Regions from separate parts of the Homo sapiens genome. Here region 1 is linked to region 2. Evidence: fine-mapped expression QTL. A gene starts in region 2. The other region holds a variant in brackets. All regions are shown on one strand. Distances are between the middles of the regions.

What was found. PIP is the estimated chance that this variant, and not a neighbour inherited with it, causes the effect. A credible set is the group of variants that fine-mapping cannot tell apart.
Region 1: its variant is the best candidate, but not a certain one, in a credible set for the expression of ARSJ in cerebellar hemisphere (GTEx, PIP 0.88).

The regions. Positions count from the first base shown.
Region 1 is chr4:114,113,027-114,117,425 of GRCh38, forward strand. No RefSeq gene overlaps it. Among named protein-coding and RNA genes, the nearest start is that of ARSJ, 140 kb to the left of the region's middle. The variant C/T (reference allele first, on the strand shown) is at 2,654.
Region 2 is chr4:113,977,222-113,981,620 of GRCh38, forward strand. It overlaps ARSJ (arylsulfatase family member J), which reads right to left and starts at 2,426. Exons shown (of 2, transcript NM_024590.4): 1 at 1,216-2,426. The coding sequence starts at 1,613. It overlaps LOC107986305 (a long non-coding RNA gene), which reads left to right and starts at 2,592. Exons shown (of 2, transcript XR_001741794.2): 1 at 2,592-2,765; 2 at 3,149-4,307. LOC124900762 (a long non-coding RNA gene) reads right to left here. Exons shown (of 3, transcript XR_007058237.1): 3 at 3,674-3,743.

The DNA of each region.
Region 1 (4,399 bases), 140 kb after region 2:
GAGAAACAGAAATATTAACATGGAATTAGGAACTACCAAAGTATGTAAAGCAAAAAATTAATTCTTGGCTGCTTATTCGAGATCACAGCTTAAAGATTGACCATGGTTAGTCTGGTTAAGGAAGTAAATGAGGCCAGAAGAGAAGCTTGGGGAATAGGACCAGATTAAGGGTTTACATTGTGCAGTAAAGATCAGTATTTGAAGGATTCACACATTGGGAGATTTGGAAGAAACTGATGCTGTGATCAGATCTTGAAGGTTGATCAGTGAGAGGCGATGGTGTGCTTCAGGGTGCTGCTGCATATGTGGGCCGAAGTGGAGAGGATGGGCATTAGAGTTAAGATGTTTTGAAACTTAAGGGCTCTGCTGTTGGAAAGGTTATCCATGTGAACAGTCACTTAAATTATGGTAGAACAAAAAAAGGAGAGCAAATATGCAATCTAGTTGCTAAAACTGAAGAATATGGAGTACTCTCTTGCAAATCATTTAAATGATGGACAGGAAAAACAGTGTAAACATATCATATGGATTACAGAAGAGAGGAAATGGGAAGCCAACAGGAAAGAAAGAGGATGTCAGCTCATTTCTTGTTATTGTGAGAAGAAAATTTGCATAGCACCTTGCACAATTTATGTACACAGTAATTTTATTTAGCTTTAAGATAATTGTGAAGTTGACGGTTTCTGATGAAACAATAACTTATAATTTAATTACAGAGTTACTTAACCACTGCTAGATCTCAAAATATGTATCATTGAGAAATTAGATTTAAATTGAGGTACTTAATTATTTCCATTAACATAGATTATTACAACAGTGACGAAGTGGAAATTTTATAGTCTTCAACTTGTGATATGAGTAAATGAAGTAAGATTAGTGAAATTGAATAGACCATAATTGTCAGGATCCATGAGCCAGATACTGCCTATGTTATTTTTCATGTTTCGGTCCTACTGGGTGACATAAATTATCTTTCAAAAGTTTTGGTACTGACTATGTATAGAAAAAAATGCAACAAAGAGCTAAATATTTGCTACTGAAGAAAAGGCAAGCAAGTTGCAGTTTATTTGGAGTTGGTATCACTCCACCAGTGTTCAAGATTTCTCATTATAACCTCTAACTCAAAAAGATGTTCTGCCCTCAAGAAATAATATCTAAATGTCTATAGTTATTTAGAGTTCAAATAATTTTCAGTTGCAAGTTTTCAGTGGAAAGAATCTCTGTGTTGTTATTTTTTAAGGAGGAAATTTTTATTTTTCATCTGTGTAAGCAGACTCTATTAAAGCTGACAGCATAAGAAGTTTTGGAGAGAACTTTTTGACATCTATGTGATGTGCTCAGAAGAAAAATAATAATTCTAAATTTTAGCCAAATTGAAGCCTATCTAGAAAGAGCTAAATGGACATCCCAGCATATTAATCTCTGGCTTGTTTGGTGCAGCTTGCTTTGATAATTACATAAAAAGATTACAGTAACAAAAAATCACACCTTAGTTAAAGGTGTGTTCTCCATTGTAAAGCAGTATTTTGGTTCTGTAGTTCAGTCATAGCAAACGTGACTGAATGAAAATTTAGACAGGTCAGGCCTCAATCTAGAAGAAATGCAAGGGAGAAAAAGTCACTTGTTCATTTTTACTCTAGAAGGAGTAATACTACAAGATGTTTTAATGTTGAATCAACAACTTGCTTTGGATTATATTTTCTAAAATGTAATCCAATACCTGTCTTTTTTCTTTTTCTTTTGAAATAGTTTTAGACTTACAGAAGAGTTGTGAAAATATTACAGAGTTCACATATTCTCTTCCCTCAGTTTCTTCTTTTTACAATTTATAAACCATGAAACAATTATCATTCACATTATTACAATACCATTAACAAAGCTACACCCCATATTCAAATTTCACTATTTTGGCTCCTAATATACTTTTTCTGTGCTAGGATCCAATCCAGAGTTCCACATTACATTTAATTGTTGCCATAGTCTCTACCAATTTGTGATAGTTCCTCAGTTTCTTCTTCTCTTTCATGACCTTGACATTTTTGATAAGGACTAATGGTTACTTTTTAGAATATCTCTCAATTTGAATTTGCCTTTAGTTTTCTCCTAAGGTTGAGGCTGTACATTTTTGGGAAGAATACCACAGAAGTGATGTTATTGTCCATCTATGCCCCTGCATCATATCACAGGTATTTATGATGATATATCTTTTTTACTGGTGATGTTAACCTGGATCATTTGGCTAAGGCAGTGTCTGCTGGCTTTCCCACTATTTTTGCCCTTGTAATTGGTTAAGTATCTTCAGAGTGATACAATGTGGGTATGCAATGTTTCTCCTCAAACTTTTGCCCAATTTTTGCAACTTCTTGCCTGCAACAATTATGACCGTAATGTTTGTAGTTGGCCATCTTAAAAAAAAAGCACATTTGTTTCTAATAATGGTATATTTAAATGAAAAATGCAAACTCAAATCAGTCAACATTTTGCTTTTTATAGAGTTATCAGATGGCAATCTACAGGTTCATAGTTTAAGCAATGCATCCTAAAAGAGTTAAAGGATGTGAAGTAATGAAATAGAAATTTTAATTATACTACCTGTATTTGCTGCATAATTGGAATTTCATTTCCATTCTGAATTTGTTGGGAGAAGCGGAAA[C/T]AGCTTGCTGCTTTAGTGGGCTGGCATGTTTGCAATGAAATGTTCCAAGCTTCTCAGCAGTCAGGTGAATATCCCAGCCTGAGGTCACCTTCACTGTATATCCCTAAGATAAAAGCAATTTTAGAGTATTTTTGATCCTGAGGATGTCCTAATTATCCAGTTCCAGAAATTGCCAATTGAGGCGATATTCAATTCTAACCCTACTTTCCATTTTAGACTATTATTATTAACACTACTATTATTGTTATTAAACAATTTTTACTCTTGTGAAATTTCCCAATTAGTTTAATTAATTGTGTAGTCTCTAGGTTTCTGAATATTTGAGACTCAACAGCACTAATCTTTCTTCTCCACTTCCTTCTTCCTTTATATTATCTTGTTCTTATTGGTGTGTAATTCCAAAGAAACAGGATGGGAGATGATAATTATTTTTAAAGCCCTGAGAAATTTTAGTTTACTATACAAAAACCTAACTTACATTCACACAAAGTTTATTCTATGAAATAATTTTCATAAGTGAGAAAGAATATAACTATCTATGAGGGCTCTGTGTGTGTCTTCTTATTTGTAATAGTTTTATCTTACCTGCCTAGAACAGCCTCTGACATATACTAAGTTCCCAATAAATATTTGTTAAATATTATGTTAAGTTAAATAGCCAGGAACAGAAAAGTAAGCACTGCATGTTGTCACACACATGAAAGCTAAAAAATGTCAATCTCATAGAACTGAAAAGTAGAACCGAGGATACCGTAAAGGCTGGGAAGGGGAAATCTAAGGGGGGAATAGAAAGAGATTTGTTAAAGGATACAAAATTACAGCTAGATAGGAGAAATGCCTTCTCGTGTTTTGTACCTCTGTAGGATGACTATAGTTTATTATACAGTTTCAAATAGCTAGAAGGAGAATATTGAACTTTTCCAACACAAAGTAATGATAAACGTTTGAGATGATAGATATGCTTATTACCCTGATCTGATCACCGTAAATTATATGTATCCAAACATCACTTTGTACCCCATGAGTATTCACAATTATTATTTGTCAATTAGAAAAATAAAATAAATAAAATTGTGTTCTTGTAGACATAAAACAATTGCTGAGTGAATAAATTAATTTTAGGCAAAATAAAAGCCTCCTAACACCACAAGAGTGATATGAAGAACTGATAGCCCTATCTCTTCTCCTCATTAACATTTTTATTTCTTTAGTCATTTATGAGTATGCATTCATGGTTCTTATTTTACTGTATGAGTTATAATCTGTTACTATCACTATTTATTTTAATCCTCAAATTTTTGGACTGGGCTTTCTTGACTAGAATCTACCTGTTCCTCAGCCGACTGTGCATGACTGATTTGAATGCCAGCTGCTCCTGGGTTGCAGCTTAATCTAACACACTCCTCCTAACGCACTGTCTATGCTGAAGTGTTTTCAAGTGAGTTACAGACACTGTAACTAACATAAGGGTCCAGTTCTGTAGGGAATCAATTAAAGTTGAAATATGGGCCTCCAAGTGAAAACCATAAGCTTTGAAAAACAAGCATTTTGAAAATGCTTTGAAGCATGAGTATCAGTCAGGCCCTCAATGAATTCAGGTAAGGCTTGTCATTTGATGTATCACTTATTGAAGCACACAATTTCTTTGGTATTTTGAAAAACAATTATTCAAATTTATATGTTTCTTTTTTTTTTTCTTTGGGAAAAGTCTTTTTAGTTTGAATCTGCCTAGGATTAGAAATAATG
Region 2 (4,399 bases):
ATTTTCTGATGCCACAGTTAACCTTTAAAATGACCCTGAAGTACAGTGAGACTTTTCTCATTCTCAGGAGAGGGAAGGACAATAATTTTTTTCTTTTCTGGCAATGATGCTAAGTTCTGACAGTTTGCTAAGCAGTGGAAATCATGCTGTAAGCAAAAGTCTCTGCGAGACAGAGATTCTTACAAAATAGTCTTTATTTTTCCAATGGATACTGGCTACTTTTATAGGATCCAATTCCAAGAACAACTTCACAGAAGCAAGGGTTCCCTGTCCTGCAACTGAAATCACAAGACATAGATTGAAATGGCTAAGGATTTTCTTCTACCTCTGTCCAGCTTAACCCCTGCCCTTCCTAGTTTATCTTCGTTCCACAGGCTGAATTTGTACATCCAAATCAATTACAGTAGCCTGTGTTCTGATAGGATAGAGTAAAAATATGAAAATGTTTGAACAATTTAAGTAGAAGATTTAGCTACTTAGCAAAGCAGCAACAATATGAAAAGCACTTTACTTAAGCATCCAAATAGTCTGATTTCTGTTGGTTAGTCAGAAAATTCCAGACCTGTGAAGAGCAACAGAAAACTGCAGATGAAGTTTGACTCCTCTTGAGCACTTACCATTGTATTTCCTTGCATTTTGAGAACTGCTTTGCTAATTAAATATGGCCTTCATTAGGGGGTCTCATAAGAGAAAATGACCCATCAAAGACCGAAGCAGAGTCATACATAAACTGGTCATATTTTACATTACTCTATATCTGTTTCGTTGGTTCATTTTCTCTGATAATTCTAGATTTAAGAATGCACCAAGAGTAAAAAAAATTTTTGATCTTTCTTATCAGTGATGGTGAGTGTGAATTCTAGTATGACATCTGAAACAAAATCTGAGCATGCTCAAAAGTAGAATAGATTTGAAACAGGAGACCATTTCTGGAAATCTCTGGTTTGTGGGTATTTATACGTTCTCATCTCATTTAGAAACTTATAATTGGCTCTGTAAAAAGGAAAACTAGACTACACTAGTGACTAGAAAATTAAGATCATTAACATTGTATCCATTTTAACACGGTACCCCAATACCATACATCATTCATTCATTCTTCATTCATTCAGTTGTTCCCCATACTTTCTGTTACTCCCTTAAATTTGGAGCTGGATCTTCATTAAATGCTTAAGATTTCTCCAAGGAATAAATATAAGAAGTAGGAACACTTACTTTCCAGTAATAAACTGACTCCTGGATGGTGTGCAAATAGGCTGGACATAGTAGTTCTCCAGTTTAACTCCTTCGGCAGCGAGCTTGTCAAGAGTAGGTGTTTTAATCTCAGATCCGTGGTAACCCACATCTCTAAATCCCTGATCATCCGCTAGGATGAAAATGAGATGGGGCTGGGAGGTGGAAGTTGTGCTGGGCTCTAGTTTCTCTCCAGCTTGAGCTAGTAAGGCCCCTTCTTCCTCCTCTTCTAAGGCCTGGCCCCAGGACAGGTAACCATAAGTGAGGAGGCAGAGGATCCAGAATCCTGCCAGCGCCCCCATTGCTAGCATCTTTCCAGGACAGACACAGGCCTGTGGAGAAGGCGGAGGCGGATGCCCCGCACAGCCCCTGGGAGCCATTCACTCAGGTCCCAGGTGAGACTCCACGCGGAGAACCACGCGCCCCGCGCCGCTGCGGGCGCACACATGCACCCAACAGACGGTGAAGACTCTCCACCTGGCAAGAAATCCTCCTCTCCTCTCAGCTGTCACCATGTCCGACAACTTTAATCTTCCAGAAGTGATGGCTTAATGGATGGGACTCCGGAAGAACAAGGAGGGCTCGCTCTTCTCCAGCACATTTCACTTTCTCCTCCTCCTCCCCCCTCCCTAGAGCAGCTTCCACCAAGGAAAAAAAAAAGAAAAAAGTTAATATCTCCACCCAAAAGTTCTCTGGAGAAAAAAACCAAGCAAGGAATTGAGAATCACAGTGGACAGGAACTTTTCGTGGCCAGAGCGCCCTCGACGTTGGGGAGCGAGGCTGACTCTCCTGGGAGTGCTGGTACGGAGGGCGGCGGGATCGGCCGTCTGTCCTGCGGTCCCCACACCTGGAAAGAACTGCGAAGTGGACGCGTCGCGTCTGGCTCTGATCAGACAGATAAACTGCCGTAGTGGACCGGCCTCCTGATCACCTTCTCCACTTTCCCAGGGCTATTTTCCCCAGTCCTTTCCTAGGCGTTTGCCAATCTCCCCGACACTCACCAGGCGGCGAAGTGAGGAAGAAGCCGTTTCCTGATCTCCCTCCACCTCCGCAGAAACTCCGGGCAGCAATTCCTTTTCCCCGCTGCTAGGGAGCCTGAAGGCCAAAGCCGGGTCCCTAGCCCCGCGGCCGGTCCGCGCGGAGCCCGCTTGGTCTTTGCGTAGTTGGCGCACCCGGCGCAGGCGCTGCAAACTGCGTGCGTTTTCTCAGCTAACTTATTTAGCTTTGGCACTCCGAGTTCTTTTGCCTCCTCCCTCTTTTCTCTCCAGTGAATCACAGAACGGTACTTTCTTCCTGAGCTCCCCCGGGAAGAGGGGGTGGGGGAAAAGGACTGTTTAGAGGCTCGATCTTTCCTTTTTCTTTTCCGGGAGGTGGATGGCCAAGGCAGAGGAGGCTTTGCCAGAGAGAGAGCTGCGTGCTGCTCCAGCCCAGCGGGATTCCGGGGGATCCGCCTGGGCTACCGCGTCCCAAGAGTGTCGCCTCCTGCCCATCACCCCGCTAGAGGGAAAGGACGGCGGCGCGAATGGGGAAGGGTAAAGCGGGCACTTCTTTTCGTGGGGCTGTTGGTGAAGAGCCCCGTCTCCCATCCCTAAAGTTGCGCTTGCAAACTTTTTCTAGCTTCTGGAGGGAGTGAGAGAGAAGGAGCAGGAATAAAAACAAAATGCGTATGACACTCTTTCCTCTTTCCAACTTCCTTTGCAGGTTTTCCTTTACTAGTCCCCCCACCCCCATCATTTTCCTATTCCTTTTGTCCCTACCTTTTTTTTTTTTTTTTTCAGTAACGATGACAAATTTTTAAGTTTTATTTCCTCTCCCAATAGCTGGCTTTTACAGCCTGATTCTTCGTTACCCTTTCCCTATGTGAAAATACTGGAATTGCCCGCTCCCTCTTACCTCTCCCCTAACTTACCCACAGGGTGTCTCCAGCCAAAAGCCTGGAGAGGAAGAGTTATGCATTTCTCCTTCAAGAACCCCGAAGCCAGTCTGCATTCCTGCATTAAAGAAGCCAGTGTTTCCCATCCAGTAATTCAGGGAGCTTCATCATTTTTTTTCCTTCTTTCTTTTTTACCATGTGGAGGAAAACCATTGTAAAAACTTATCTTGGTTGTGAAAATACTCTTGATTTTACTAGAGTCATAGAGTTTTAAAGTCCTGCTCAAAGGCAGCAGAGGGATGTATAGTATAGTCTCTATAGAAGAGGCAATGAATGCCAAGAGCCACTGAGATATTTTTTTCTACCACCAAATTTATTCAACAGTTACTTACTGAATACCTACTGTGGGCTGGCACATAACATGTCAGATTCTCTCAATTGACTGAAACATAAATCTAGGTTTCATTTAGCCATTTATTTCTAATTCTCTCCTGTTGCTAAAGTTCCTGCTGAGTTCCCAGGCAAAACTTTGTGAAATGGGAACTTTGAAAGGCACGATGGTGCTCCATGAAGTTAACCTTGCTAGCTGCTGTAGGCCTTCTGGTCTCTGTTCTTCCTTGCAGCCCTTCTGGCTAAGCTGGGGAGAGATAGTCAGTTTTAGAAGCCATGTTCAGAAATGTGAGTTTAGCAATTCTGTAAATTAAGTCACCAAATATGTAATGAGAGTACTGAGTGTCAGGGGATTGAAAAGCATTGAGAGGTAGGGCCCTAGGCTTAATGGGCCTAGCCAGGTGCTTGAATGGGAAAGATGCAAACATTCTGGTCAATCTAGCCTTTTATTTGGGGAGATAGTGACTTCTTGTGACATAGCACAAGAAGTATCCATGTTCTGTGCAAGAAGGAGACACATTTTCAGTTGAGGTTCCAAGCAATAATAATAAAAAACAATCAAAATGTATGGAATACTTACCATGTGCTAACCATAGTATTCTATATACTGATACATACACACATATACAGTCGCATCTATCAGGGATTAGTTTCAGAACCCTGAGGGATACCAAAATTCATGGATGTTCAAGTCCCTTATGTAAAATGGTGCACTATGTGTATAAAACCTACATATTAATGTATCTTCTATGCTTTAAAACATCTCTATATTACTTATGATACCTAATACAATGTAAATGCTATGAAAATAGTTGTTGGACTGTATTATTTTTATTGTTGTATTGTTATTTTTTTTTCTTCTTTCCTTGAATGTTTCCAGTGTATAGTTGGTTGAGTCCCATA